4 linked regions of the Homo sapiens genome follow. The protein of the gene in region 4 interacts with the protein of the main gene of each other region in a pairwise test. Each region holds a gene or a part of one and is shown on either strand. Other genes may lie near its edges. The genes, in order: AUNIP, RPP25, TACO1 and DR1.

Region 1 (8,289 bases), about 68 Mb from region 4:
TCCTGGAGGATTCTATAACTGTCATGTACTACATCAACAAGACAAATGTTTTCACCATAACATTGCCAGGGAAAAAGGCAGGATTTGGGGGTATAAGAATTATAGACAGACCAGGCACGGTGGCTCATGCCTGTAATCCCAGCACTTTGGGAGGCTGAGGCAGGTGGATCACTTGAGGCCAGGAGTTCGAGACCAGCCTGGTCAACATGGTGAAACCCTGTCTCTACTAAAAATACAAAAATTAGCCAGGTATGGTGGCACACGCCTGTAATCCCAGCTACTCATGAGGCTGAGGCAGAGAATCGCTTGAATCTGGGAGGCAGAGGCTGCAGTGACCCGAGATCATGCCACTACACTCCAGCCTGGGTGACAGAGCAAGACTCCATCTCAAAAAAAAAAAAACAAAACAAACAATAAAACAAGATTAGGCTGGGCGTAGTGGCTCACGCCTGTAATCCCAGGAGGCCGAGGCAGGTGGATCACCTCAGGTTGGGAGTTCAAGACCAGCCTAACCAACATGGAGAAACCCCGTCTCTACTAAAAATACAAATTCACCTGGGCAAGGTGGTGCATGCCTGTAATCCCAGCTACTCTGGAGACTGAGGCAGGGGAACTGCTTGAACCCAGGAGGTGGAGGTTGCAGTGAGCTGAGATCGCACCACTGCACTCCAGCCCGGGCAACAAGAGCAAGACTCCATTTCGGAAAACAACAACAACAACAACAACAACAAAACAGAATTATAGACAGAGAGACAAATATTGGCTCTCCTCTTCCCTGTGGAATATTCCCTTTCTCGCTCTCCTGAACTCTTCCTAATTCTATTTCTGTTCTCTTTCTAAATTAAACTGGTGGCTGGGTGCAGTGGCTCACACCTGTAATCCCAGCACTTTGAGAAGCCACGGTGGGCAGATCACTTGAGCTCAGGAGTTCAAGACCAGCCTAGGTAACACAGCGAAACCCCGTCTCTACAAAAAAAAAAAATACAAAAAATGAGCTGGGCTTTGTGGCACTATGCCTGTAGTCCCAGCTACTCGGGAGGATGAGGCAAGAGGATCACCTGGAGCCCGGGGGCGTTGAGGCTGTAGGTAGTCGTGATTACGCCACCGCACTCTAGCCTGGGTGACGGACTGAGGCCTGTCTCCAAAATTAACTAACAAATCAAAGTGGTATACAAGTTTCCCACGCATCCCATGTCATTCAAGAATGTATTCAAAGGGTACAAATGGCTTATTCCTAATTCAAGGAGTAATAAATAGCTATTGCACATTTTGATTTTTTTTTTTTTTTTTTTGAGACTGAGTCTTCTGTCACCCAGGCTGGAGTGCAGTGGCACGATCTCGGCTCACTGCAACCTCCACCTCCTGGGTTCAAGCAATTCTCCTGTCTCAGCCTCCCGAGTAGCTGGGATTACAGGTACCTGCCACCACGCCCAGCAAATTTTTGTATTTTTTATAGGAGAGACGGGGTTTCACCATGTTGGCCAGGCCGGTCTCGAACTCCTGACCTCAGGTGATCCGCCCGCCTCGGCCTCCCAAAGTACTAGGATTACAGGCGTGAGCCACCGCACCCGGCCATTTTGATAATTTTTGAAAAAATAAAACAATCGGCCAGGCACGGTAGCTCAAGCCTGTAATCTCAGCACTTTGGGAGGCCGAGACGGGCGGATCACTTGAGGTCAGGAGTTCAAGACCAGCCTGGCCAACATAGTGAAACCCTGTCTCTACTAAAAATACAAAAATCAGCCGAGCGTAGTGGCGGGCGCCTGTAGTCCCAGCTACTCGGGAGGCTGAGGCGGAAGAATCGCTTGAACCCGGGAGGCAGAGGTTGCAGTGAGCTTAGATCGCGCCACTGCACTCCAGCACGAGCAACAAGAGTGAAACTCCATCTCAAAAATAACAATAATAATAATATGCCGGGCGCAGTGGCTCACGCCTGTAATCCCAGCACTCTGGGAGGCTGAGGCGGGCAGATCACGAGGTCAGGAGAGCGAGACCATCCTGGCTAACACGGTGAAAACCTGTCTCTACTAAAAATACAAAAAATTAGCCGGGCGTGGTGGTGGCCGCCTGTAGTCCCAGCTACTCAGGAGGCTGAGGCAGGAGAATGGCGTGAACCCCGGAGGTGGGGCTTGCAGGGAACTGAGATTGTGTCACTGCACTCCAGCCTGGGCGACAGAGCAAGACTCCATCTCAAAAAATAATAATAATAAATAATAATAATAAAATGATCAAATTTCTTATCTATAAAACCAGGATAATGACAAAATCTACTTTACTGAATTTTGGTGAGTACCTGCCATTGATAAAGTGTATAAAGTCTCGGCAAAATGCCTGACACATAGAAAGCACTCAATAAAGGTTAGGTATTGTTGTTATTATTTATACACCTCTTTTCTTCCCTATAAGACTGTGAGCAACCTGAGAGCAAGAATCTTGCCCCTAGTGTCTGTTTTGAGCCTGTTTTCCGTATGTAAAATGGGTATCATTACACTATCTACCATATAGAATTGTACCAAACAAGGTAACATACCTAAAACACTTAGCACCAGCATAAAATGCTCAATAAACATGAATGATTATTATGTCGCACTTTTGTTTCTTTACAGTGACTGAAGAGCATCTTGCCTAGGTGACAGACCTGAATGTGATTTCCAGCTCCTTCTAGTTAGGCGGGCCTAGGTTAGTTACTGAACCTCAGTTTCCTCATTCCCAGCAAGAATGACGACACATATAACGCATATTCAGTATCTAATGCAGTATCCGGCACCCAGTGACTGCTCAGTACATAGGAGGCCAGCTCCCCTTCCCATAGCTTCTACTTTTCCCCTCAAAGTTACCGGTTCTGGGCAGGTAGTTGGCCTGCAACTTGGCAAATTGGGTGGAAACAGACCCCGGGGTGAGAATTTCCCCAATTTGCATTCGCATCCATCTCCCAATGCTCCAGCCTCTACTAGGACGTCTCGCAGGGACTGTGGCCTCCTAGGGAGCCTGGTCAGTTCAACTGCTCCGAGCGAACTTTCCCTCCGCCTCTCCCACACCTGAACCTTCGCCGCCCCTCCCTGCGCACCGCTCCTCCAGACCCCCCAACAGCACGCTCTTTCCTTCCGTCCCTCCCATCCTCCCCAAGCCCCGTTTTTCAACCTTCTTCAGACCACAATCCCTCTCGCCTGTGAATCCCCAACGCTGTTCCCTTCTCTGTCCCCGACTTCGCTTTCATCATCTCCAGGTGTCCCCCAAACTCCTCCCGTCTTACGCCTCCAGGCCCTACCTGGTTCCCAACGCCCTCTCATCCCCCAGCGTCCCACCTGCACTTTCCGCCTCTTCAGCGCCGCCGCGTCCAGCCACACGCCGCAGGCCTCCTCCTCGGGGCCTGTCCGCCTCATGGCCGCTGAGGAGACGAAGCCGGCAGGACGCCGGCGCAGGCTCCCGGCGCCTCAGGGAACGCCAGAACCGCGGCCGCCGACGTTCGGATCTCGCGCCAACGCTGGGGGCGGGGCTACGTCGCGACCGCCCCGGGCGCCAGCCCCGCCCCGGCAAGGCCCTGGCCCCCTTCGCTGTGCCCCGCCCACGCACTAACTTTCGCGGCCGGTCCCTTGAGTGCGTGCGGCATATTTCCCTGCGCGGAGGAGTGCGTGTTCTTTCTGATCCGCTCTTTCAAGAGCGGATTCGGAAGCTGCTGTGTGAACGGTTCTCGACAGCCTCAGAAATGTACATTTTCTTTTTGCTGTATTGAAAATTTCTTACAGTATTTCCCGGGCTTAGGAATTTGTTCGTGTCATCGCTGAATCTTCGCGATCACCCCCAGAAGGAAGTGGCTGAGCCGAGATCAGGCCCGTCGACTCCAGACCAGGGGTCCTCGACCTAAGTGGTTACCAGACACTCGAGTGTGCGAACAACTTTGGTAATTTTTTTTTTTTAATGTAAGCGTAACTACGAAGCCACATGGGAGAGGATTTTGAAGAGGTTAAAATTTGGGGTCAGGAACTAGATTTCAGTCCTGCTTTCACCGTTTACTGTGCCTTGGATTTTAAAGAGGATCAAATGAGGTTGTGAAAGTACTTTGTGAATTCAGAAAACCCCTTGGAAATGCAAAAATGTTGGCACCCCCACCCATCCTTCCGTCCCTAACCACAATCTCCATAGATGGAATATATGTACATTATACGTAATGTTTACATATTGTATATGTAAAAAAAATTTTTTTTTGAGACGGAGTCTCACTGTCGCCCAGGCTGGAGTGCAGTGGCGCTATCTCGGCTCACTGCAGCCCCGCCTCCTGGGTTCAAGCGGTTCTTCTGTCTCAGCCTCCCTAGTAGCTGGAAGTACAGGCGCACGCCACCACACCCAGCTAATTTTTGTATTTTTAGTAGAGACGGGGTTTCACCATTGGCCAGGCTGGTCTCGAACTCCTGACCTCGTGATACGCCTGCCTCAGCCTCCCAAAGTGCTGGGATTACAGGCATGAGCCACCGCGCCCGGCCAAAAATTTTGTAATTTTTTTTTTTTGGTGGAGGGAGGATAGAAGCTCAGCCACCTCTTGCCCAGTCTGCAGCAGGTCAGCCAGGAACCTCAACCATCTCTGCAGCCAGAGCCTGTCTTCATGGTGGACAGAGCCATCTCGCTTTGTCACCCAGGCTCGGGTACAGTGGCACAGTCTCAGCTCACTGCAGCCTCAACCTCTTGGGCTCAAGCGATCCTGCCACCTCAGCCTCCCAAGTAGCTGGGACTACAGGTGTGTGCCACCACGCCTGGCTAATTTTTGTATTTTTAGTAGAGATGGGTTTTCGCCATGTTGGCCAGACTGGTCTCAACTTCCTGCCCTCAGGTGATATGCCTGCCTCAGCCTCCCAAAGTGCTGGGATTACAAGCGTGAGTCACCATGCCTGGCCTATATCAAAATATTTATTTATATACACATATTTTATGTGTGTGTGTGTGTGTGTGTGTGTGTGTGTGTGTGTGTGTATTTCATAAGGTCCCCCATGATATTTCAGCAGTGAAGTGATATTTCTAATTAATTTGGGTTTTCTTATCTTCCCAATTTTCCTTCATTGTATATATATTGCTGTGTACTATGGAAAAAGCAATATTATAAAAGTTAACATACTTCTTCGGTGCGCATGCGACGAGGCTCAATATGTGTGGTGGAGTGTGCACGCCCCTGCCCCCTCCACTAAAAACAAAACAAAAAAACCCTCCTTAATTGAAGGAAAAACCAAACAAAAAAAGTCTTTGTCAGATCATAAAGTGGGATTATCATATTTTAAACACATTATTTTAACTACTTATAAAACTTTAGTAATAAAACTGCCGCCCACTCCCTTGCCAAACAAATTTTGTATATATAGATATGGTATATAAGGCCCCAACCCCATCCCCCAGCAAAGATAAAACAAGAACTGCTCCCTGCACCCTGTGTCCACTCCCAGGGGCCCCAGCTTCCTCCGGAAAACCTCCAGTAATGTGAGCAGGGGCCCCTCCCGGAAACAGGAGACAAAAAACAAAGAGGTGGCTACTGTCACAGTACTTTATTGCATCCAGGCCATAATCCAGACCACCCAGCCCCAACCCCACTTTTCCTTCCACACCTCTTGGTCTCTGCACAGGTTTCCCTCTGCCTGGAATGCCCTTCCTATTCTCCATCTGCAAACTCCTATTCACACTCCCCAACCTAAGACCCTGAGGGTCCCAGGCAGCACAGGTTAATCCCTCTCCAGCACCTCCCTTGACAGTTCATTCTGATATCAAAGCCTTTGTCGGCCAGGCGCAGTGGCTCATGCCGGTAATCCCAGCACTTTGGGAGGCCGAGACGGGCAGATCACCTGAGGTCAGGAGTTCAAGACCAGCCTGACCAACATGGAGAAACCCCGTCTCTACTAAAAATACAGAAAATTAGCCAGGCATGGTGGTGCATGCCTGTAACCCCAGCTACTCGGGAGGCTGAGGCAGGAAAATCGCTTGAACCTGGGAGGCGGAGGTGCAGTGAGCCGAGATCGCACCATTTTACTCCAGCCTAGCCAACAAGAGCGAAACTCCTCAAAAAAAAAAAAAAAAAAAAAAAAAAAAAAAGCCTTTGTCATCTTGCATTGATCCACAGGGCCCAGTGGTGACCTGCCTCTGAGCAGAGGCCCAGGAAACACTGAATGGATAAATGAATCCGTAACAAGGGAACCAGGAGAGAAGCTGGGAACAGGCCGTGTGGGACACAGAAGCCAGAGCTAGGAGATCTGGGGCTCACTGTCTGGGATAGTGACTGAAGGAGTATGAAGCACTGGATGGGACCCATTTGTATCTGGCACAATCTACTACCTTTGGGGTCTCTCTGCAGCTCCAACACTTGTGGCTGGGCTTCAAGGGACAGTAAGATCCTGTATATATTTTGGGCCTACCCCTTCCGCATCCAGCAATGAAATCTGAGTAGAAGTAGGTTGCCAAGGCCTCCCCTGGCTCAGCTCAAATCTGACTCTGGCCTAAGTTTCACCTCCTGCCTAGACAATCTAGAAGCCCCAATCCTCACCAAGCTGACCCCCAGCCTCACCCCAGTGAGTGGCAGTGGAAGGGCAAGCTGGAGTGGCCCACACCGTTAACTCTTTCCCTCTCCCTGGGCAAGGAGCTGGGGCAGGCCCAGGAGTGGACCCCAGCAACTCCTAGCCAATCCCTAAATCCAAGAATTGGCCAGTGATGCCCTTGGCAGTTGAGTCGTGCACAGAGAGTCACTGTGGGCCAGACACAAACAACTTTACCAGGCCTTGTTCCCACCTGGAGCCAAACCCAGACCCCTGTCCCCCAACTATACCTCCCTCCCTACCAGATGCCATCCCCCTTCACTTGGTCTTCTGATCAAGTTTGCGCTGTACCAGCTGGCTCAGGAGGAATGCAGTGAGGATGCTGCTGCCCACCGTGAGCAGGAAGAGGCCAGAAAAGTTGTGAGGCCAGTGCGTGTGCAGAGGCTCATAGATGGGCCGTCGGGCCTCATAGTCCAGTGCCACAGCCTCCAGCTGAGCCAGCGTGCACAGCACCAAGAAGATGTGGAAAAGTTGGTGGCCCTGCCCGAAGACATGGCAGCTGCCAGGGAACCAGCGCTCGGGCATGAAGGTAGAGAAGAAGGCAGCAGCCAGCAGAAAGAAGACCACCTGGCACTTGTGGTAGAGAAGAGCTGGATCATCCGTGGTGGGGTCGGAGGACACGAAGATACGATGCACCACAGGACTAATGTCCAGTGCGTAGGCCAGGACGGAGGGCACCTCCTGGCATGTGCGGCCCAGCAGGCCTGGTTTCTGGATGTACTTGTTATAGCAGGAGCCAATGCAGGAAAGCCAGGCGAGAAAGGCAGCCATGGGCAGAAAAACAGCCTGCACCTGGGCATGCCAGGCGGGCTCGATAGCATAGTAGAAGTGTGCCAAGGCACTGCCAAACTGGTACACGGCCACCCCCACATAGTCCAGGAAGAAGAAGCTGTAATGCCAGAACTCAGACTTGGCCTGCAGGAGGTGAGCCAAGGCACTGAAGGAGAGGTAGGTGAAAGAGGCAAGGACAATGATGAAGAGGGGCAGGGCGTGTGGGTCTCCCCAGAAGTCCACGGTCTCCACAAAGAGGGCCAGCCGCAGCAGCAGTACCAGGGCCGCCAGCAGGTGGGTCCAGACATTCACGGCCTCGTTGTGCTGCTGGAACAGCGTGCGGAAATAGAAGCGCCAGGTCTGATGCAGCGGCCGGTAGCCCGCATAGATGTACGGCTTCCAGAAGAGCGGCGGCACCTCAGCTCGATCCACCGTGAAGACAGGCTCTGGCTGCAGAGATAGCTGAGGCTCCTGGATGACCTGCCGCAGACTCGGCAGGAGGTGGCTGAGTTTCTGGGCCATGGCCATGGCTGTGGGCCTGGGCAGGGAGCTGGGAGAGAGACCAGAGCAAAGTCAGGGGCCTGGTGTCCTCACCCCCACGAGCAGCAGCTGGGGGGCTCTGATGCCCAAATCCTACTCCCTCCTCTCCGACAGCCTTATCCTTACACTCGGTTTAAGAACAGAAGACTCATCCTATGGAATTCCTCATCTCTGACCTCATGAGAGCAAGGATCCCTGATGTATTCCAGGTACCTAGAACAGTGCCTGACACATAGTAGGTGCTCAATAAATGTTTGAGGAATGTATTAACTAATAAGGCTCCCTGTCTTGTTAATTTCCTTTCCGGTCCCAGGCTCCACACAGCAGCACCAGCTGTTTTCTCTCCTAAAGAACAGATCTGGCCATGTGAAACACATGAGAGGGGTGAGGCGCTCTCAGCCCGTGTTCATGC
Region 2 (7,795 bases), on a different chromosome or scaffold from region 4:
ATTGTTGTTGGGTTTTTTTTTGTTTGTTTGTTTTGAGACAGTGTCTCGCTCTGTTGCCCAGGCTGGAATGCAGTGGTACAATCACAGCTTACTGCAGTCTAAACTTCCTGGAGCCACTGCACCTGGCCAAATGTTTGCTGTTTTAAGCTGCTGAGCTGTGGGGTAATTTTTATGCAGCAACAGATCACCAACACATCTTTTCCACTATGGAACACCCTCATCTCCCAAAGCTAACCCCTTTGGGCAGTTTGAGTCACTTAAAAGTTTATTTTTCTCATACATTCGGCTGAGATAGTAAAGGGAGTCAGAACTCTGAGTTCAAACATCTGTGGTTGCTTCTTTCTAGCTGTGGTACATAAGGCAAGTTATTTAACCTCTCTGGGTCTCAGTTTCACATCTGTCAAACAATGATGATACCTTCCTGGAAAGAAGAGTGTGGAGATTAAACACATCTGACCCAATGCTGGGCACTCGGTGGGTGCCTGCTAAATCTGAGTTCCCTCTGGCCCTGCTAATTTTCTTTTTTGTTGTTGTTGTTTTTGTTTTGTTTTGTTTTTGAGACGGAGTCTCGCTCTGTCGCCCAGGCTGGGGTGCAGTGGCACAATCTCGGCTCACTGTAAGCTCCGCCTCCCGGGTTCAGGCCATTCTCCTGCCTCAGCCTCCCGAGTAGCAGGGACTACAGGCGCCCACCACCACGCCCAGCTAATTTTTTGTATTTTTAGTAGAGACAGGGTTTCACTGTGTTAGCCAGGATGGTCTCGATCTCCTGACCTCGTGATCCGCCCGCCTCTGCCTCCCAAAGTGCTGGGATTACAGGAGTGAGCGACTGCGCCCGGCCTGGCCCTGCTAACTTTCTAATTCCTGACTCTACTTGCATGCTCCCAAGACCCTGCCCAAAGAGGCTGGGACTAGGATCAGGGGTTTTAAGAGCTCCTCATCCTCCTCCTGCAACAAGAGACAGAGGAGAGGGGCTGTACCAGCGATCCCCCTCCAGTGTGAACATGAGAGATTTGTCCACAGGAAGTAGGGTGTGCTGCTGGAAAGGTCCCAGGGAACCTTAACAGATATGTATTGGCTAGGCTTGGCCTCTAGCCCAGCTACCCCAACACCTCCTCCCAGGGTGAAAGGAGTCTAGCTTGCCACTCACCAGTTCACTGTGAGTGAAAACTGCTATTATTTCTGAGTCTTTCCCAATTTCTTTTCCTTTTCACCAGTTTTCTTTCCCCCAATCCCTTTACAATTTTTTTAAATTCACAAATAATATATGAAAAATAATAACAGCCAACATTTCCTGAGAACTTAGCAGCCAAGGTTCCAAGACGGCTGTGTCTCATAATCACTCTGTGAGGTAGATTACTATAATTAGCCCCATTTTACAGATGACAAAGCCAAAGCAAATGGGTTAAGTAAATTGTCCAAGGTCACACAGAGGCAGAAAGAAGCTAATAGAAGCTGAAGCTTCAGGGTCAGTAGCTCATTTATGCAAGCTGCTCCAAGACTCTGTATTCATATTTAATTGTCCTTTTCTTAAAGAAGGTAATGAAAACTTCATGCGGTAACAAGAGGTCAGTGTGCTGTTTTCTTGCAGATATTTTAAAAATACATTTACATCTATAAACACACACGGAAATAAATGCCCCCCTACTCTGTGTATGGCTGGCACCCAGCTCCTTTAACACAACGTCTTCACTGACTCCACTTTTCTAACCATTGTGTGGTGTGCACCACTGATGCTCTACTTTAAAATTTACCAGCCTTTCTGAAGTTGAGCCCTGTGCTCCCCTCCTCTGACTCTGGCCCCACCCTGGGGTTCCCACCCTCTTCTCAGCTTTTTCTCCCTTCGCCCTGTCCCCTACGCTGTTTCCCCCCTCATACAGCCCCTTTCCCTGTGTCCTCACTACTTCATGCCCCAATTCCTTCCTGCCTCTCGCGTTTCTCCTCTCTCCTCGCCACCCCGCCCCGTCCTTCACCGCCCACCCTGTTTTCCCCGCTCGCTGCCCGCTCTCTCCCACTCCAGCTTCCTCCAGGCCTGCCACATTACCCTAATTCACAGCACCCCATCCTTCCTCCCTCACTCCCCGCATCTCCCGCCCCCACCCCCTACACCCCTTCACGGCTAGGAGGGAGCGCACAGCCGGCGGGCTGCGACGCGCGCTGACAGTGTAATGAATGGCTTCAGCTGTAATTAGCGACCCCGCGGCTAATCACGATGTACATTTACATTTTAAGTGCTGCAGAGGGAGCGCGGGAAGGGGAGGGGACCGGCAGGAGGGAATGCGGCCCTTTTCGGCGTTCTCCCTTCACCGACTGTGGAGAGCAGTGAATGCGAGTCTTCTACATCCGACAGCAGTTTAGGAGGTTGGGGACGGCTGGGTCCTCGAGGGCCAACCTGGCCGGACGCAGAACCGCCCCGTCCTCGCCCTACACAAACCTGAAGCTCCCAGGACCCTTTCTCCAAATGACAGAACTCCGCCCAATCCCTTCCAAGTGATCGTGCAGCCCAAACTTGCATACTCCCGGGGACGGAGAGCTCGCTCCTTCCACAACCAGCCCGTTCCAACGTAACTTCCAGCCTTTCGGGGGCTTTTTCTCAGGGCCTGACCTTACACAGCCCTCGGTTCTCCACGCCCCGCTACGCGCTGCGGACAGTCTTTGTTTCTTCCCAAGGCTGCTGTGCCTCCAGCCCCCACCGCTGTGTGGGGCCCATGGAGACTGGACCGAGACCGAAGTCCCGGTTCGGAGCATACCCCGAGGGTTCCTGATCCCACCAGGAGACGGGGAGGGGGTCAGCCATTCACACATTGCGGTGCCAAGGTCCAGTCGCCGCAGCCACTCCCAGGAAGTGGTAAGAGGGTAAATCCCGGTTCTGAACAGCAGGGACCGAGGGCCGCTCCCAAGAAGTGACAAGGAAGTAAACCCTGGTTTTGAACAGCAGGGACTGAGAGCTGCTGCAGATGCCCAGAGGGCGAGAACAGCGGGAGGAGGGAGAACAGCATCTGGCAGCCCCATCTCCAACTGAGGCCCAGCAATCCAAGGCACTGTCATGCCCCCAGCACTTTCCCGGTGGCCCGCCCGCCCCAGCTCTCTGTGTCCCTCCCCGCCACGCCCCGTCACAGTCCCCTGGCTAGGACCAGATCTGCCGCCCTCTCTCAGTCCTGACTGCGTAGGGCGGGTGGAAGGAGGACGGGGGAATCCCGAGAGCAGTTTTAGGGAGGGTCGGGCCCCTTCTCAGACCCCCTCCCTTCCATCAGTAGTCCTGACAGCCCCCAATCTCATCTTTCTCTAATGCTTCTCTCACCCGGCAGGAGACCCCGGGCCTCTCTTTCGGTCCCGTGGAGTTTCCGCCGGAGAGGCATCCAGTAGTTCCATAATGCCCCCAGGGCTTCAACTCCCCATCTTCCTCCCTTCTTTCTCTCTTTTATTTTTTTTTAAGTCTTTTTAATTTTTGTGGGTATACAATAGGTGTCTATATTTAGAGGGTACATGAGACGTTTTGATACAGGCATGCAATGCATAATAATCACATCCTGGAGAATGGGGTATCCCTCCCTTCTCTTTTGTATTTTATTTAATTAATTAATTTATTCATTTTTCGAGACAGAGCTTTGCTCTGTCGCCCCGGCTGGAGTGCAGTGGCATGATCTCGGCTCACTGCAGCCTTCAGCTCCCGGGTTCAAGCGCTTGTCCTGCCTCAGCCTCCCGAGCAGCTAGGATTACAGGAGCGTGCCACAACGCCGAGCTGATTTTTGTACGTTTAATGGAGACGGGGTTTCACCATGTTGACCAGGCTGGTCTCGAACTCCTGACGTCAAGTAATCCGCCCACCTCTGCCTCCCAAAGTGCTGGGATTAAAAGCGTGAGACACCGCGCCCGGCCCCTCCCTTCTCTTTTTTAAAACCTGCGTTCACCTAGCCTCCTTTCGAAAAGGACCCCACTGGATCTCAAGGGGCCAATGTTGCCTGAGCGAATTCCGCCTGGGAGGAAGGGGGCGGCCACGTTGGCAAGGCATCGTGCCTGGCTCACCCTAAAGCGCGCAGCTCTAAGGGTGGGCTCTAGGGCCTGGGTGGAGCGAGCCTACCGCCTTTTCAGAAGAGGTCACGCCCGCTTCCCCACGCGCCTCGGGGAACAGCCTGGCCCAAAGCCTCACTCCTCACGTCCCAGGGGTGGACGGGGGTCCGGGAGCCTCGAGCTCCGGGCAGGCGTGGCGAGGCTGAAGTCTGGGTCTTCCGCGCCCCGCGAGGACCACGCCGCGACGTAATCGCCCGCGGGGAGGCGCGGAGTGGAGCCGCAGCCAGCTCCTCCCGCACTCTGCTGACCGCGCACTAGCTGTCCTTGAGGCAAGAATACTTGGGAGCGGAAAAAAGGTGGGGGTGTTCCCCGGGGCGGGGGAGGAGGGGCAAGGCCCCAGCAAGCCTCTTGGAAATCTCTCCCTGGGAGGGGACGAGGGGCGGCCTTCAGTTGCAAATGGGAAGGGCTCGGATACCGGATTTGAAGCAGTGTTTGCACGGCAAGCGCAGCTTTTATTTAGACTGCCGGTTTGTGAGGGTTGGCTCTCAGAGCGCTGATGGCGATTATAGTGGAACTTCACCTTCACCTGCTCATGCGCCCCGCAGCGCGCCCGCTCCCACGCCCGCGTAGCTGAGGACCCAGACTCGCCAGGAAAGGCTAGTGAGGCTGGGGCCCGGGCGGGCCCGGCCGGGCCGGGTCAGGGGAGGGGCCTGGCGGCAGGGGCGGGGCCTCAGCTAAAGGCGCGGAGCACCCGGCGCCGAGAGCGCTGAGTAGAGCGGCGCCCGCTCGAGAGAAGTGGGGCCGAGATCGCGCCGTCCCAGCCCGCCCGCCGGCGTCTGCGCTGCTCCGGCGCCCTTACCCCTGCTGGCCCTTGCAAGGCGCGACCGGCGGCCATGCAGCCCCGGGGCTGAGGCCGCCCCATGGCAAAGCCGGCGGTCCCGGCGACGACGGCGCATGGAGAACTTCCGTAAGGTGCGCTCCGAAGAGGCGCCAGCGGGGTGCGGGGCCGAGGGAGGCGGCCCGGGCTCCGGCCCCTTCGCAGACCTGGCGCCGGGCGCGGTGCACATGCGGGTCAAGGAAGGCAGCAAGATCCGGAACCTGATGGCCTTCGCCACCGCCAGCATGGCGCAGCCAGCCACGCGCGCCATCGTCTTCAGCGGCTGCGGCCGGGCCACCACCAAAACCGTCACGTGCGCCGAGATCCTCAAGCGCCGCCTGGCGGGCCTGCACCAGGTCACGCGGCTGCGCTACCGGAGCGTACGCGAGGTGTGGCAGAGCCTCCCGCCTGGGCCCACGCAGGGTCAGACGCCTGGCGAGCCGGCCGCTAGTCTCAGCGTACTTAAGAACGTGCCCGGCCTCGCCATCCTACTTTCCAAGGACGCGCTGGATCCGCGACAGCCCGGCTACCAGCCCCCGAATCCCCATCCTGGTCCCTCGTCCCCGCCAGCCGCGCCAGCGTCCAAGAGGAGCCTAGGGGAACCCGCAGCTGGAGAAGGCTCCGCGAAGCGATCGCAACCCGAGCCAGGGGTTGCGGACGAGGATCAGACGGCCTGAAACTCCGGACTGTGGGCCACCTAGTCCGGCAGGATCTTCCGCCAGCGCCTCCACCTTCAGATGTACCTCCAGCCTTTCACTCCTCGGTCCTCCGGAGCCCACAACCTGGACACAGCTCCTCAAGACAGGTAGCATGGACCTTAAGGCGACAAGAGAGGGGCCCCAGGAGTGGCAGGAGAGGATCCCCGACCACCCTAGGGAAACTTCGTGCGATAATTGCTGCTTATGCCCGTGTTGCGTGAAGACACGGAACTTCACCTTTTCTGGGACCTTCTTTGGGGGAGAATGGTGGACAGTGGGATTCTGGAAACTTGTTTGGGACCCCCAAGGGTTAAAGCCACCCAGCATTCACGAAGAGCACCTGAAGTATGGAAGCTGAGAAGAGTTATTGGAATCACCCCCACCGTTGACAGAGGAAGGCAGGGGGTGAGAATTAACTGCTTGAGGGTAGGAGAGTCTGAGATGTGGGGGCCCTATTCCGCTCCCCGCCCTGGGACAGTTTTCCTTTCTAGTTTTCTTTCCCCTGCTTCAGAGGAGCATCTCTGAGGGTTCTAGCTCTTTTAACACCCCTTTTCCCCCTGCTGGCCCAGAGGGAGACCCAGGACTGAACTCTCCAGGCCTCCTCCCCTGAGCCCTGCAGCTGGCTGGAGTCTTGCTTCCAATAAAACAAGCACAAAAATGGCTGTGTCCCCCATTTTTTTTCTAACCACCCGCCTGTGCAGAGACAGCTCTCGCCTGGCCCCTTGTGTCTCCCCTCCCCTCCAGCCTTGCGTCCTGAGTCTTTGGAGTCTTCAGGGTCAGGCACAGAGACTGAACAGCTTCAAAATGGTGCAAGGCACTGCCCAGTCCCTGGCTTCTTCCTCTCTCCTCCCCCACTCCGCCCTCCCGGGCTGGCCCTGGCCTCAGAGGCTGTTGCAAATGGGGGCCCGTGTACCCCTGTACATCGCCACTAAGGGAAAGGGAGCGGCACATTGTTTTTCTGGGAGGGGAAGGAAGGAGTGGAAGGACAGCATCGATGAACTCTCCTGGAGGTCACTGCAAAGGGTGGCAGACCCTGCTGAGGTCCCTGAATCTGCAGCCTCCAGACAATAAACTGAACCTTACCCAGAAGGCTGGCACAAAGCCCCCAGCTCTGTGGGTAGGATCTCCCCTTCACTGCCCTCTCTCTGAGAAAGGACAGCACACCCTTGGGAAAGGGGGAGGAGAGAGACTGAGCACAAATCCACTGCTGGAAATTACTATTCAGCAGAGAAGCTGGGTCTTGGGCTGTGAATCACTGCAGGCCTCCTGATAAGCTGCTGCCTCCAGCCCTGCACAGCTGTCTGTTGAGAGATAACAGCCTCATAAGCTTCTCTGCCCAACTCCAAGCCAGCTGGGGGGTGGGGGTGCTGCTGTGTGCTGGAAGAGCTCTGGTGAGTTGGGGGTGGCATACAGCCCCAGGATCTCAGAAGCAGATCTCATCCCATGCAACTCAGCAGCACCCCTGGAAAGGGGGAGATGCGGAAGAATGTATTTATAAGTCATTTTGCTGGCAGAACCCTGAAATAAATCCTGCTGGTGACAAGAGATACGTTCTGTGGCTGACTGGAGGGGCTCTTAGGGAGGTTTCCCTCCCCTGCAGTATCTCTGCTTGAGCTTTGGAGTGAGCTTTGTCATCCAGACTTTGTCCCTCGTTGCTCTCCCCAAATTCCTGCTCTTGATGAGTCCCTGGAGAGGGCCAAGGGGTTTGGGTTTGCTTGTCTGACCCTCTCAGGGGTGGCCCAAGAAGCATGGAAAGAATGTAAACTGTCCTGACAAGATGGCCTAGCTTCTCCTGGACTTCAGCATCTAAAGGCAGTGATAAAACTTGGACAAGGTCCTGCATGGTAGAAGCTTAAGGGAGACTGGTCTTGGTTCTGAAAAGGGTCCAACTTTCCAAGACAACAAGTGACTGATAGCCGGGTTACCAGGACTATGAAAGCAGGGCCTGAGGCCGGGCATGGTGGTTCATGCCTGTAATCCTGTAATCCCAGCACTTTGGGGGGCCAAGGCGGGCAAATCACGAGGTCAGGAGCTTGAGACCAGCCTGGCCAACATGGTGAAACCCCGTCTCCACTAAAAATACAAAAATTAGTCAGGCATGGTGGCGGGCGCCTGTAATCCCAGCTACTCAGGAGGCTGAGGCAGGAGAATCGCTTGAACCTGGGAGGCGGAGGTTGCAGTGAGCCGAGATTGCATCACTGCACTCCAGCCT
Region 3 (7,920 bases), on a different chromosome or scaffold from region 4:
AATTTTTGTATTTTTAGTAGAGACCAGGTTTCGCCATGTTGGCCAGGCTGGTCTCGAACTCCTGACCTCAGGTGATCCACACACCTTGGCCTCCGAAAGTGCTGGGATTACAAGTGTGAGCCACTGCCCCTGGCCTGGATAAGTATTTTGGAAAAGTACTTTTTTTTTTTTTGAGACAAAGTCTCACTTTGTCACCCAGGCTGGAGTGCAGTGGCATGATTTTAGCTCACTGTAGCCTCAACCTCCAGGGTTCAAGCGATCCTCCTGCCTCAGCCTCCCAAGTAGCTGGGACCACTGGTGTGCACCACCACACCCAGGTAATTTTTTTCGTATTTTTTGTAGATTCAGGTTTTCACCATGTCGCCCAGGCTGGTCTCAAACTCCTGAGCTCAAGTGATCTGCCTGACTCGGCCTCCCAAAGTGCCGGGATTACAGGTGTGGGCCACCATGTCTGGCCAGAAAAGACCTTTTTTTTGAGACAGAGTCTCACTCTGTCATCCATGCTGGAGTGCAGTGGCATGATCTTGGCTCATCTTGGCTCAATGCAACCTCCCACTCCCGGGTTCAAGGGATTCTCCTGCCTCAGCCTCCTAAGTAGCTGGGATTACAGGTGTCTGCCACCATGCCCAGCTAATTTTTGTATTTTTAGTAGAGATGAGGTTTCACCACGTTGGCCAGGTTGGTCTCGAACTCCTGACCTCAAGTGATCCACTCACCTTGGCCTTCCAAAGTGCTGGGGTTACAGGCATGAGGCACCGTGCCTGGCCAGAACTTTCTAATTCATTGTCTTTAGGGATGGTTTTCATTCTGCTAGGTTTCAGCGATCTCTACTTTGTGTCAGATGAAGAAGGGTTATAGATGGTAACAACACTTCCTGGACTCATTACTGCTCTTACTCTACTACTTTGTGCATAATAATTATTTTTATTTTATTTTATTTTTATTATTATTTTTTGAGACAGAGTTTTCCTCTGTTGCCCAGGCTGGAGTGCAGTGGTGTAATCTCGGCTCACTGCAAGCGCCGCCTTCTGGGTTCACGCCATTCTCCTGCCTCAGCCTCCTGAGTAGCTGGGACTATAGGCGCCCGCCACCACCACGCCTGGCTAATTTTTTTGTATTTTTAGTAGAGACGGGGTTTCACCGTGTTAGCCAGGATGGTCTCGATCTGACCTCGTGATCCGCCGGCCTCAGCCTCCCAAAGTGTTGAGATTACAGGTGTGAGCCACCGTGCCCAGCACTTTGTGCATAATTATTGAAATGTTCACATGACATTGTGATCTGAGGGTAGGGGCTGTATCTCATCATCTTTCTAGTACCAATGGCATGCCTGGCACAAAATAAACACAAGTTGGTTGAACTTCATTGGGATGCAGTGGCTGATACCTGCAATCCCAGCACTTTGGGAGGTGGAGGTGGGTAGATCATTTGAGGTCAGGAGTTCGAGACCAGCCTGGCCAACATGGTGAAACCCTGTCTCTATTAAAAATACAAAAAAATTTAGCCAGGCATGGTGGTGCACACTTGTAGTCCCAGCTACTCCGGAGGCTAAAGCAGGAGAATCACTTGAGCCTGGGAGGTGGAGGTTGCAATGGGCCAAGATCACGCCACTGCACTCTACCCTGGGTGACAGAGTGAGACTCTGTCTCAAAATAAATAAATAAATAAATAAATAAAAGTTGCTTGAACTTAATATCAAGAATTTTGAAGAAAAGGAAGCAAACAAATACCAGGCATGAGCTGAGGGGGTAAATTAACATTAACTGAATGCCTATGATGTGCCATAAACCATAAACTACCTCAAGGTGGGTATTATCCTTGTTTCAGAGAAACTCAAGTTAAGCTACTTGTTCAAGGTTAGTCAGTGACAGAAACCAGTCTTCCTGACTCCAAAGTCCACAGTTTCTCTCTCTTTTTTTTTTTTTTTTTTTGAGATGGAGTCTTGCTCTGTCACCCAGGCTGGATGGAGTACAGTAGAGCAATCTCGCTTACTGCAGCCTTCAACTCCTGGGTTCAAGCAATTCTCCTGCTTCAGCCTCCCGAGTAGCCAGCATTACAGGCATGCACCACCATGCCCAGCTGTTTTTTTTTTTTTTTTTTTTTGTTATTTTTAGTAGACACAGGGTTTCCCCATGTTGGCCAGGCTAGTCCTGAACTCCTGACCTCAAGTGATCTGCCTGCCTCTGGCCTGGGATTACAGGCTGTGCCACTGCGCCCAGTCCAAAGTCCATGCTTTCTACAGGACTTTTCCTTTGCTCCTACAGATGTCTGGCCCTAAACAGAAAAAAAGCCTTTTCAGTGTGGCGACCTAAGGGAGAAAAGACATGGCTGCAAATCTACCTTCCAAGGAAATGTGTCTTGGGGAAACATTAATGAAGCAAACTAAGGCCTAAGCTAAGGCCTAAGCACTTAAGTAATAGCTTTACTCAGTGCCCCTGCCACAACCAATAAGGTACTTGAGGCGACTTCAGAGGGGTTGATTTGTCTCTTCAGGAGAGACACACATCTGCCCTGACTCTTAGGGCTTGTTTCTATTAAGTACCCAGCTAGATTAGGATGAAGTCACTTCTACCTTACCGGCTTATCTTCTTAAGAGCAGCTCCCTCTCTGACAAACTGGCCAGATGCTCAGCGTCTGGAAAAGTGAGTGAGAACCTCCAACGTAGGGTAGGTGTTTTGAGGATTTATGAGGTGGGCAATGGTGGGTACTGGGGAAGGAAAACAAAGTGAAGGGCCGGAGATCTAGGTGGGCCCAATTCCGAGAGGCAAGCGAGGCTGCGGGCACTGAGAGGGCAGCGGCAGCCAGTGCTGGGTGACCGTCAGGGTCTCACCTTTCACTGCCAGGCGGATGTTCAAACAGAGTTTGGAGAAGATGCGACTCCTTTCGACGTCCTTCGGACCCTTGATGTGCCTGACTTTGGACCACTTGTTGTGCCCGGCGGGGACAGCCGCGGTAAAGTGCAGCGTCCTGCCCGGAGCGGCACCGCAGCCCCGGGGCTCGGGGTGGGAGGGCCGGGGGTCGCGCGGAGGAGCCGCCCTGACCCCGGGGCCTCGTGCCAGCAAGCATCGGGCAGCGGCCCTGCTTAGGCTGGCAGCAGCCCAAGCCGACATCGGTCCCGACCCTGGGGTTCAAGCTGCTAGCAGCAGCGGCCAACGCCGGCGCGTCTCTTCCACTGCCGGAACAAGCAGTTCCGGACCCCGCGGCCGCCTGTGCCGGTCACCTGAGATCCAAAGGCTTGGGCCCGCCCGGGGCGGCTCAACAGCTAATGACCCTACACTGTCCCCGCGGCACCCGGGACTGGGGGCCCTTGATGGCGTAGCACACTTCCTTTACCGGGTTCGCTCCAAAAACACGTCCCCACTGCCCGCAAAGTCCGTTCCGTGGCTGCACGGTACTCGCTCCTCTCTTGCCCTTGAGCAGATCTAGTTAGTGCTCAAGCCCTCACGGTTGCCTAGAGAGCGCCGGACTTTGTTTCTCATAATGTTTTAGTGGAGACACATCTGAGTTATGAAACTGACTTTGCTTCCAAATTGCTGCCTAAATCTGAGCAAGTCCAGAATGATATTTTGTTGTTGCCTCATTGTACTGGGAAAGAAACTGCTGCCAGAGAAGTGAATTGCCCAAATGTTTAATCTCTCTGAACGTCTTCCCTATTTATAAATAAGGATCTAATATTTGCTTTATCAACATAGGAAAGTTAGAAACACAAAATGAGCCCTTAGAGCTTTAAAGTAATAAAGTTTTATGTAAATAGCCACAGTGCACTTAAGCCCCTAGATGCAAGAGATGGTTTGGGACAGACTCAGATGAGTCACAGGCCTTTGGGAGAGGGAGAATGATCAGACAAGCCCTTTGGAGCTAAACTCCCCTCTTCATTTTCTCTCTGCTGTCTCGAAAGAGAAAACCGAATCCGTTAGAAGATGGAGAGAAACAAAGCGGCAGCTGCTGAAAAGCTTTGTAGTGACTCCCATGCTGGTGAGATTAAGTCCAAAGGGCATGACATATCAGGTAGAGAAGCAGGACAGCCGGGCGCGGTGGCTCACGCCTGTAATCCCAGCACTTTGGGAGGCTGAGGCAGACGGATCGCTAGGTCAGGAGTGCCAGACCAGTCTGACCAACATGGTGAAACCCCGTCTCTACTAAAAATACAAAAAAATTAGCCGGCCGTGGTGGCGCGCGCCTGTAATGCCAGCTACTCAGAAGGATGAGGCAGGAGAATCGCTTGAACCCGGGAAGAGGAGGTTGCAGTGAGCCGAGATCGCGCCACTGCACTCCAGCCTGTGCGACAGAGCGAGAATCCAACTCAAAAAAAAAAAAAAAAAAGAGAGAGAGAGAGAGAGAGAAGCAGGACAGTGTGAAGTCCAAGTTTGTGCCCTCTGCAGTTAGACTGGGTGGCTTCAAACCCTGGTTGTTCCATTTTCTAGTGTATCCTTGGGCAAGTTCCTTTACTTTCCTGTTTCAGTTTCCTTACCATAGAATGGCCTTGTGAGGACTAAATGGGATAATGGATGCAAAGCACAAAAGCATAGATTTTTTATTTTTTATTATATAAGAACCTCCATGGGGCTGGGTGCGGTGGCTCACGCCTGTAATCCTAGCACTTTGGGAGGCCGAGGCTGGCAGATCACTTGAGGTCAGGAGTTCAAGACCAGCCTGGTCAACATGGTGAAACCCCGTCTCTACTAAAAATACAAAAATTAGCCAGGTGCGGTGGGTGCCCATAGCCCTTCATACATGCTTGCACCTTAGCACTTACCTTTTAAAAAAATATCAAAATGTTTATATCTGTTTCTACCGTAATACTAAATTCTCTGAGAGTAGGACTGTACTTCCTATGCCCAACACAGTTCTCATTTTTTAAAAAATTAAGTTTTGACATATTTCACAGATCACACAGATCACCAATTCAAAGTGTACAATGTGTTATAGAATATTCAGAGCTGTGCACAATTGATTTTACATTTTCATCATCCCCAAAAGAAGTCCTGTACCCATTAGCAATCATTCCCTATTTCCCCCCAATTCCCACAGCCCTAGGCAATCACCAATTTACTTCTGTCTCTGTGGGTTTGCCTCTTCTGGACATTTAATATGAATGGGCCCACACACTATGTGGCCTTTGGTAACTGGCTTCTTTCACTTAGCATGATGTTTTCAGGATTCTTGCATGTTGTAGCATGTATCAGTATTTCATTTCTATTGCCAAATAATATTCCATTGTATGAATATACCACGTTTTATTTATCTGTTCATCAGGCAATGGACATGTGGTTGTTTCCACCTTCTATGATGAATAATGAGGCTGTGAACATTCATGTACACATTGCTGTGTGGACCTATGTTTTCACTTCTTTTAGTTATATACCTAGGAGTGGAATTGCTGGGTCATATCATAACTATGTTTAACCTTTTGTGGGATTGCCAGACTGTCTTCTAAAGTGGTTGTATCATTTTACATTCCCACCAGCAATATATGAGGGTTTAATTTCTCCATATCATGAATTTTTTTTTTTTTTTTTTGCTTTGTTACCCAGGCTAGAGTCCAGTGGAGCAATCATAGCTGACTGCAGCATAGAACTCCTGGGCTCAAGTGATCTTCCCATCTCAGTCTCCCAAGTAGATGAGATTACAGGTGTGAGCCACTGGCTAAATTTGTTATTCTTTTTGACTATAGTTATCACCATCCTTGTGGGTGAGAAGTATTATCTCATTGTGGTTTTGATTGTATTTCCTGAATGACTACTAATGGTAAGCATCTTTTCATGTGCTTATCAGCCATTCATATATAGTATTACTTTTTGCAATTTAAAAATAGTTTATTCAGGCCAGGCATGGTGGCTCACACCTGTAATCCCAGCACTTTGGAAGGCCGATTTGGGGCAGATAATGAGGTCAGGAGATCGAGACCATCTTGGCTAACACGGTGAAACCCCGTCTCTACTAATAATACAAAAAATTAGCTAGGTGTGGTGGCACGCGCCTGTAGTCCCAGCTACTCAGGAGGCTGAGGCAGGAGAATCGCTTGAACCCAGGAGGCGGAGGTTGCAGTGAGCCGAGATCGCGCCACTGCACTTGAGCCTTGGTGACAGAGCGAGACTCCATCTCAAAAAAAAAGAAAAAAATATATATGTAATATTTACTTTGAGAAGCAAAAATCAAATTAATGGAATTTGTAATCACAAATAAGTGTAGAGGCTAAAACAAGGTTTGAGACTGCCCTAGTCCAGTCAGCCTGAGACCAGCAAGGGAAACCTATAGTCTCACAGAGTTAGGCTTATCAACTCACTGCAACAAGGGAGACTGCACACCAGAGGAATGGTGAAGTGTCTTACCGAAGAAAAAACTGGTCATAGAATTATGGGGAAGGGTGGAAGTTAGGTGAAAAATTAGAGTTAGGCTCAAAGAAACACAGACCTGTGTGAAAGGCGGATTAAGATCAGCTGGACTACCAAGTGGACCCAGGGGATCAGTTTCCCTGGAAAGTACAAAGTCAAGGTAAATGTGGACTGTTGTGTTCAGAAGCCCCTGCTCTGAAGCACAATACCTGGCCTGGAAATCAAGGCTGCTTCTCTGTCAGAGTGACTCAGCTCCTCCAAGCAAGACTGACTATAAGCCTTAATTCTCACAAATACAATTGCAAACAGCAAACTTTGTCAGCCTATGATTTTGGAGAACGAAATTTCTCAGTGAATTTTTTTAAAACAGTAGTCACTCAGGGAGTTTTGACACTTTATGTTGCCAAAAAAAGAAAAAAAAATTGCAGTGTGTTCTTGATAGAGGTACTATATCCTGTTAACTGTGCAGCTGGTTTTATCTGTCTGTGCATCTGTGATGAATGGCAGGGCAGATTTTAACTCTCAGTCTGAGTTAATAGCCACCTTTCAAGATAAATTCATAGTTGACTGAACCATCTCTAGACGCCTGGCTGTCAGGCTCACTGAAATCACTTAAGTAACAATGAGCCTTGGAAGCTAAAGACTGGCTACAAATATCATTCCATTAGGTTTGACCATGTGTTGTCCAGTACTAACAGCTCTCAATGAATGAGATTACATTAGTTATTAGTCCAGATACTTAGCCGATTTGCTAGTATGGCTGAGACATAATTATTCACTACTTCACTTCCTTTTCCAGGGTACACAGGAAGACTACATTTCTTGACTTGACCTTCCTTGCAGTTGGCAGATAGGAGCAAAAGTGAGTAAGCCACTTCCCGGCCCATCCTGAAAAATGTACTCCCTCCCACCCCCCATAAGCAACCTGGAGGTCACACGTTTATTTTTATTTTTTGAGATGGAGTCTTGCTCTGTTGCCCAGGCTGAAGTGCAGTGGTGCGATCTTGGCTCACTGCAACCTCCACCTCCCGGGTTCAAGCTATTCTCCTGCCTCAGCTTCCCAAGTAGCTGGGACAACAGGCGTGTGCCACCATGCCTAGCTAATTTTTGTATTTTTAGTAGAGATAGGGTTTCACCATGTTGGCCAGGCTGGTCTCGAACTCCTGACCTCAAGCTATCTGCCCCTCCCTCCCCCCTCAGCCTTCCAAAGTGCTGGGATTAGAGAGTTGAGCCACTGCACCCGGCCCAGAGGACTTTGTGTAAGCAAAAAATAAGCTTTTGTAGTGCTCAGTTTCTGAGATTTGGGGGTTTGTTGCCGCAGCATAGGCTAGCCTATAAATAGTATTACTCTCTGTTTTCTCCTTAAAAACCAGAGAGCAGGACTCATGTGTTTCTCACAAAATATACATTGTCAGACCATATAGCAGCACAGTTCCAAAGGACCAGCAGGTACTCATAAAACTTAAATTCTCTGCCAGGCACGGTGGCTCACGCCTGTAATCCCAGCACTTTGGGAGGCCGAGGTGGGTGGATCATCTGAGGTCGGGAGTTTGAGACCAGCCTGACCAACATGATGAAACCCCATCTC
Region 4 (7,692 bases):
TCCTCTAGAAGCTCCCACTATAACAGAAATAGATTTGTCAACAAATAAATTATAATATGCTAGGAAGAATTCAAAAATAGAAATATCTACCACACATAATCAAAGAAAGGGTGATTACACATAAAAGTATCAGAGAAAACTTCATATAGGAGCTAAAATTTAAGCTGGGTCATGAGGTATGGTTTGAAGTTTGCCAGGTAAAGATGGGAAAAGGTTACTCCAGAGTTGGGAGGAAGCATGCACAAAGGTAGTTAAAGTGATAGCATTATTTAGCCCAGATTTCATTACGATTAAGAGATTATAGAAAACAAAGTTGAGGTGTGCTGTGAAACATACTTTTTATGTAATACTTAAGAGTTTGGACTTTATACTATTATCACCAAGGAGCAGAGAAGCCTCATATTCGCTTTCGTATTTCAGAAAAATAACACTGGTGGCAATGTGAAGGATAGACTGGGACAAGGAAGGACTGGCAGCAAGGCAAGTTAGGAGGCTACTGCAAGCTTCAGAAGAGAATCAATAAAGCTACAAAGTGAGGAATGGTAGTTGCCTAACCTCCAAGGCAGCATGATTAGAATTCTGTGTAAAATAATTCCTAAAATAGTTCTTTCTCCTAAAATAATTCCTAAAATATAAGGGTTATCCTTATATATTGATAGCTGCTGACTCATCAGTACCAATGAGATCATGATCCTTAATTTCAAATTAAGAACATGATCTTCAATTTCATTTATAGTAGTTATGGCTCATTTAAATCCTAAATAATGAGCCATAGCTACTAATTTATTTATTTTGCCACGTCCATTGCTAAAGTAGCTACTAGATGTTATTTCCTATTTGCACAACAGTAGGTTTGTTACTGGGATATGGAAAACAGGGAACTTGCAATTTAGAAAAACGCAATTTGGCCTTGTTTTTATTTTATTTTTACTCACCACTATACTAAAGGTGATGGGCTTGTTTTAAAGAGAAAGTGTACTCCAAAAGATTCCAAAATTCTGCAACATTTGGATAAGGATGAAACTAAAACCTGACACCAGGTCACTTTTTCTATAAGCTTTCTTTAGTATTTTGACCAAAAGAAAAGACATATGTAAAGCCTATACCACAAATCAACTTTATAAAATAACTTCTCATATTCTGCATAACACTGAGTGAATCATTTAGACAACAGTGGACAGAAAAAGGGAGCTGAAAATAGTAACAGACATTACCTCTGCTTCCTTAGAATGAGTTCTACAATTACCTTGCAAAAGCACACAATTTTGCTATCCTCAGGCAGGCTTATAATTTTTTTAAAAGATCTTCAAATAAAGGTCATTTATTTTAGTATTTGTTCCAGTATTTCCAGAGTATTTTTGGGGAAAAAAGTTCTAGTGGAAGAAAAATAGTTTTCATAATTACTTACATTGGGGTTCAAATCCTTCACTTGTTAGATGTTATTATATTACAGTCATCCCTTGGTATCCGCCAGGGATTGGTTCCAGGATACCCCAAGGATACCAAAATCCAAAATCCAAGGATGCTAATCATCTCTAGATTATAATATCTAACATAATGTAAATGATATATAAATATTGTTATATTATTTTTAAAATTTATACTATTTCATTGTTGGGTTATTTTTTGTTTTTTCCCCAAATGTTTTCAATCCATCAGTCCATGGTTGGTCGATCTATAGATGTGGAACCCCCAGACACAGAGGGCCAACAGTACTTAATTTCTTGGAATCTTAGTTTCCTCACTTACAACATGTTTATAATAAAGACAGACGAAATTTTGTAAGGGCTACTAGTATATGTGTAAGGCAACTGCACATGAAAACCTAACACTATTTGGCTTAGAAAACATACTCTATCCTATGTAATATACCAAATAAGTGTTTTGGAAATAAATACCATTGTTCTTCATAGCTTAACCACACTACTACACCCTACTACATGGATTCTAGAAGTTTATTAGTGACATAAATATGAAGTTAATGGCATCTTTTATAGGCACAACAAAAGAAACAAACGTATTAGAAGGTATTTGCATAATCAGACCATTTTGAGCCTGGTATGTTTTCCCCAGTAATTGGAGCATCCTTAGATGCCTTAACAACAAGGACAGTTTCTCCATCCTTTGCTGCATACATACTTTCTAATACTATCTCTCTCCTTCCACTCCCAATTCCTAATAAAAATCTCTGATTCACATTAAAAACTTATTCTGGCAAGTCTCCCTCTTCCACCTCTACTGCTTTCTATGTTAGTGACAAGTGCTATTCATATAAAATATACAAAGGCAAGAAACATAAAGTTAAAAGGAAACAGTATGTACTATTCTTCATACTCAATACATCATACATAAAATACGGAGTTTCATAAGTAAAACAAAATACTGCATACTGTATGTCTATTATTTTTAATGGTGTGCCTGTGTTACCAGTCTATGACTGGACTATCAATACTTACCCTCACAGAGGAAATAAACAAATGAAATAACATATGTAAAAAAACTATTACAAAAAGAGTTGATCCTCATTGTTCATATCACATACAGCAGGTCCTCAACTAATGTAATTTCTTTTTTTGTTTGTTTTTTTGAGACGAAGTCTTGCTCTGTTGTCAGGCTGGAGTGCAGTGTCGCGATCTCAACTCACTGCAACCTCCGCCTTCTGGGTTCAAGAAATCCCCTGCCTCAGCCTCCCAAGTAGCTGGGACTACAGGTGCACACCACCAAGCCTGGCTAATTTTTTGTATTTTAGCACAGATGAGGTTTCACTATGTTGGCCGGGATGGTCTCTATCTCCTGACCTCGTGATCCACCCGCCTCGGCCTCCCAAAGTGCTGGGATTACAGGCGTAAGCCACCACACCCGGCCTGTAATTTCATTATAACATTGATGAAAAACAATTATTTACAACCAGGGCCACTGTCTGTGTGAATTTTGCATGTCCTCCACATATCTGCATGAGTTTTCTCTGGGTATTCTGGTTTCTTCTCAATTCCCAAAGATGCACGTTAGGTGAATTGGTACAGCTAAATGGTCCCAGTATGCGTGTGTGTGCCGTGTGAGTGCGCCCTGTGATGAAAAGGCATCCTGTCCAGGGTTGGCTCCCACTTTGCTCCCTGAGCTGCTGGGATAGGCTCCAGCTACCCAAGACACTGAACTGAAATAAGCAGGTTGAAAAACGAATGAATACAAATTACTGTAAAACGAAAATTTGTAAAGTATATAATAATCATACAAATGCACAATAAATGATGCAGTATGAAAGCACTCAGCAAGCCCACTTTATTTCTTATTTTTTGTTTTTGAACTGCATGGTGGTAGGAGGTGCTCCTTAAAATTTTCACTTCCCAACAGTTATTCCTTGATTTAACCCACTAGCACTACAACTGCTGTCACTCACTGATTCGCCAAATATTGGGTAAATAATTTTTACTTTTTTTTTTTTTTTTTGAGACAGGGTCTCATTCTGTCACCCAGGCTGGAATGCAGTGGTACCATCACGGCTCACCGCAGCACCGACTGTGGGATTGTTTAATGCAGGGTTTATCAATAACAACCCCATAAACATTTGGGGCTGGATAATATATATATTTTTTTTGAGATAGGATTTTGCTCTGTTGCCCAGACTGGAGTGCAGTAGCGTGATCATGGCTCACTGCAGCCTCGACCTCCCAGGCTCAAGGGATCCTCCCACATCAGGCTCCCGAGTAGCTGGGACTACAGGTGCAAGCCACCACCTCTGGCTAATTTTTGAATTTTTCTGTAGAGACGGGTTTCACCATATTACCCAGGCTGGTTCCGAACTCCTGAGGTCAAGCCATCTGCCCACCTCGACTTCCCAGTGTTGAGATTACAGGCGTAAGCCACCATGTCCAGCCAATTCTTACTTGTTTTTATCCTTTTTAAATGTATATAAAGCTCATATTAATCTCAATGTTTAATTTTAGAAGTGTTTTGGGTCTTTATTAGAAATTTGGTAGTGTTTTTGTAACCAGAAATATATGCCATAGGGACTTAACTCTTATTTATATCAGTTCACCTATGGTAAAATTGATTTCATTATATGTTGTTTTTCTTAAACTCGCAGTTTCCCAGAACCTATCAACAACATTGAGGACTTATTGTATTATAAATTATCTTTATATGAATATAAAGACTTTCCCTATTTCAATTGCGAATATACAGATCTGTGCACTCAAAAATAACAAGCCTATTAGGACTCAAACAGTTATTTGTATACCCACGTTCACAGAAGCATTATTCACAATAGCCAAAAAGCAGAAGCAACCCAGTGTCCATTAATGGATGAACTGATAAACAAAATACGGTATTTACATACTACGGCATATTTGGCCTTTAAGAGGAAAGAAATTCTAATACATGCTACAACATGAATGAACTTTGAAGACATTATGGTAAATGAAATAAGAATGAATCCATTTAGATATCCAGAGTAGTCAATTCATAGAGACTGAATGCTGGTTACCAGAGGCTGAGGAGAGAGGAGGTAATGGGTGGTTATTGTTTAATGAATACATAATTTCAGTTTGGGAAGATGAAGAGTTCTGTAGACGGATGGTGGTGGTGGTTGCACAATAGTATGAATATACTTAATGCCACAGAATTGAACACTTAAAACTGGTTAAAGTGGTGAATTTTACGATATGCATATTTAATCACAATAAAAAATGCTTATTAAAAGATGTACTAGTTATGAAATAGCATACCTCATCTGTTTCAAACTGGGTGTGGCTAACAATGAGGTAGAAAAGCAGCAAGCAGGTACAGAGATTTATAATGGCTGCTCTAGGTCCTATCGGGTAAAGGGATCAGCAGATGTGAAGTCAAGAGTCTCCTGTAAGATTTGACTTTCTTGGAAACATATTTTAATCCTGGGCCTCCTCTTTCCAAATCACCTATTTCTTTTAGTCTTTTTGCAGTGATACTGTGTGTTGCTTCTAACAGAGGTTCAGTTTCACAGCCTTTCCCTCAAGTGTCTTATCCTAAAAGTAAAACCTAGATGATCTAAGGTGGTGGTTTTCAACAGGGTGCAATTTTGCCTCCTATACTCGCAACACCCAGGGACAGTTGGCTATGTCTGGAGACATTTTTGGGTTGTCACAACTGGAAGTAGGGTGGGGAGTGGTGCTAATGACATCAAGTGGGCATAAGCCAATTATGCTGCTAGAAATCCTACAATGCACAGGATAGGCTCCCACAAACAAAGACTTAACCAACCCCAAATACTAACAATGCTTGGTTTGAGAAACCCTGTTCTAAGGTTTTTCTAAGTTGCTTGATTTATGGTAGAAACTGATCATAAGTTAAAAGTTTCCTCCTTTTGGATTGCTTGAGCCCAGGAGTTTGAGGCTATGGTGCATTATGATTATGCCTGTGAATAGTCACTGTAATCTAGCCACTGCAATCTATATTAAGAAACATAGGCCGGGCGCAGTGGCTCACGCCTGTAATCCCAGCACTTTGGGAGGCCAAGGCGGGTGGATCACGAGGTCAGGAGATCGAGACCATCCTGGCTAACACGGTGAAACCCTGTCTCTACTAAAAAAAAACAAAAAAAATTAGCTGGGCGTGCTAGCGGGCACCTGTAGTCCCAGCTACTCAGGAGGCTGAGGCAGGAGAATGGCGTGAACCCGGGAGGCGGAGCTTGCAGTGAGCCGAGATCGCGCCACTGCATTCCAGCCTGGGTGACAGAGCAAGACTCTGTCTCAAAAAAAAAAAAAAAAAAAAGAAAGAAAAGAAAAGAAAAAAGAAAAAGGAAACATAGTGAGACCCTGTTTCTTTAAAAAAAAAAAAAAAGTTTCTTCCTCTTATTCCTTACTTTCTCTTCTCATTTATTTTGAGGAAATAGGATAAGAACCAGTGGTAATACTTTAGGTGAAAGGAGGCTACTTATGTTATCATTCTCTTCACCCTGGCCGATCCTAACCATGACACTTTATATCCTGGGGGATGGTGAAAAACAGAGGAGGTGGGGTAGGACTTGTGGTCAAATTGTTGGGGACAGAGGCAAAAAAGAAAACAGCAACAAAAAAATACAAATGAAGAAATTGGAAGGCAGTGCCTATGCCATCTGAATTGGATAATTCTTCCTAATGGCCATTTGGATATAGATGAGTTGGACAGACATAATTTAGAAACCTATATAAGGAAATATCATGCATTTTAATGAGGTTATAACCCAAAATTTAAAATTCAATTAAAAAATTAAATCACAGATTTTCCCACAACATACTAATTCAACATACTACTTACGATTACTTAAAATTTGCATTTTTTCTAAGGAGCAATAACCTAATGAGTATGTAATACTAATGTGTCAGTTAATAAGGGCAATTACTTTTGCTCTTATTTTCCTGTTATATGAAATTAACAACATACCTGCTGCAATATAACTCATTTGGTACAATTTAGGTGTTTCGAGAAATTCAACCCACTAAGATCATTAGCGTAATTCATTTTTATGCTACACATTAAAATGGTGCCTTCTTACAGTCACTTTGGAAAACTGTTTGACAGTAAATACTAAAACTGAAAATATACACACCCTACAACCTGGCAATTCCATTCTTAGGTTTATACTCAATGGAAATGTATACACTCACCAAAAGACATGTATAAGAATGTTCTACACAGTACTATTCATAATAGCTCAGAATTGAAAAATTCTCAAAAGACTATTAATGGGAGAATGAATAACTTTTGGATGTAATGAAAAATGGATAAACAAACGGAAGACTATACAGCAATGAGAATGAATGAACTACAAATACATGCAACAATAAGAATGGATCTCACTTTGGCAGGTTGAATAACGGCCTCCAAAGATAGCCAGCGTATGAATCCCTGGAACCTGTGAATGTCACTTATATGGCAAAAGAGATTCTGCAGATGTGATTAAATTAAGGATCTTGAGATAGGGGGATTATCCCTGCTTTATGCAGGTGAGCCCTAAACTTAGAGGCAGGGAAAGATCTGACTACAGAAGAGAAGATGATATAATGACAAAAGCAAGCTTTGATCATAGAGAGGAAGGGGTCACAAGCCCATAAATACAGGCCGTCACTGGAAGCCAAAAAAGGGAAGAAAACATTCTCCCTCACAACCTCAATAAAGAGCCAACCCTGCTGATACTTTGATTTAGGCCTAATGAAACTGATTTTTGGACTTCTGATCTCCAGGACTATAAAAGAATAAATCTGTGTTGTTTTAAGTCACTAAGTTTGTGGTAGTTTGTTACAGTGGCAACAAGAAACTAAAATATTCACAAAAATGATGAATGAAAAAAAGTGTATTATGTATGATTACATTTACATAAAATAAAAAACAGGCAAAACTAATCTATGATTTTAGAAGTCAGGATAGTAACTTTCAGCAAGAAAGAAGACAGTGTTAAGATGGGGAAAGAGGAGGGCTTCTGGGGTACACATAATGCTCTGTGTTTTGATCTGAAGACTAGTATGTGAGTTTGTTTAATTTGTGAAAACCTTTATTTGTGTACTGTTTTGTGTGTGTGTGGTATATGCAGTTTTAAAAACTGATGCCTTTTAAACACTTACTAATCTGATAATCTGCCGAAAAAGAATATATAACATATATTCAAGGGGATGGAAAAATACTTACTGAACAATAATTTTATTTCTCAAGAACGCTGAAGATTTTGTTTCTCTCTTCAAA

The links.
Region 1: the proteins of DR1 (region 4) and AUNIP interact in binary tests that used the Homo sapiens proteins (3 or more experiments, as listed by UniProt).
Region 2: the proteins of DR1 (region 4) and RPP25 interact in binary tests that used the Homo sapiens proteins (3 or more experiments, as listed by UniProt).
Region 3: the proteins of DR1 (region 4) and TACO1 interact in binary tests that used the Homo sapiens proteins (3 or more experiments, as listed by UniProt).

The regions. Positions count from the first base shown.
Region 1 is NC_000001.11:25,855,975-25,864,263, forward strand, and holds the start of AUNIP (aurora kinase A- and ninein-interacting protein), read right to left. Parts: upstream 3,484-8,289; 5' UTR 3,384-3,483; coding exon 3,306-3,383; intron 1-3,305. Other genes in the region: PAQR7 (membrane progestin receptor alpha), read right to left, coding at 6,825-7,865. UniProt on the Homo sapiens protein: DNA-binding protein that accumulates at DNA double-strand breaks (DSBs) following DNA damage and promotes DNA resection and homologous recombination.
Region 2 is NC_000015.10:74,953,751-74,961,545, reverse strand, and holds RPP25 (ribonuclease P protein subunit p25), read left to right. Parts: upstream 1-4,773; 5' UTR 4,774-4,962; coding exon 4,963-5,562; 3' UTR 5,563-7,128; downstream 7,129-7,795. UniProt on the Homo sapiens protein: Component of ribonuclease P, a ribonucleoprotein complex that generates mature tRNA molecules by cleaving their 5'-ends. Also a component of the MRP ribonuclease complex, which cleaves pre-rRNA sequences.
Region 3 is NC_000017.11:63,596,271-63,604,190, reverse strand, and holds the start of TACO1 (translational activator of cytochrome c oxidase 1), read right to left. Parts: upstream 3,297-7,920; 5' UTR 3,108-3,296; coding exon 2,828-3,107; intron 1-2,827. UniProt on the Homo sapiens protein: Acts as a translational activator of mitochondrially-encoded cytochrome c oxidase 1.
Region 4 is NC_000001.11:93,362,905-93,370,596, reverse strand, and holds the end of DR1 (protein Dr1), read right to left. Parts: 3' UTR 1,104-7,692; downstream 1-1,103. UniProt on the Homo sapiens protein: The association of the DR1/DRAP1 heterodimer with TBP results in a functional repression of both activated and basal transcription of class II genes.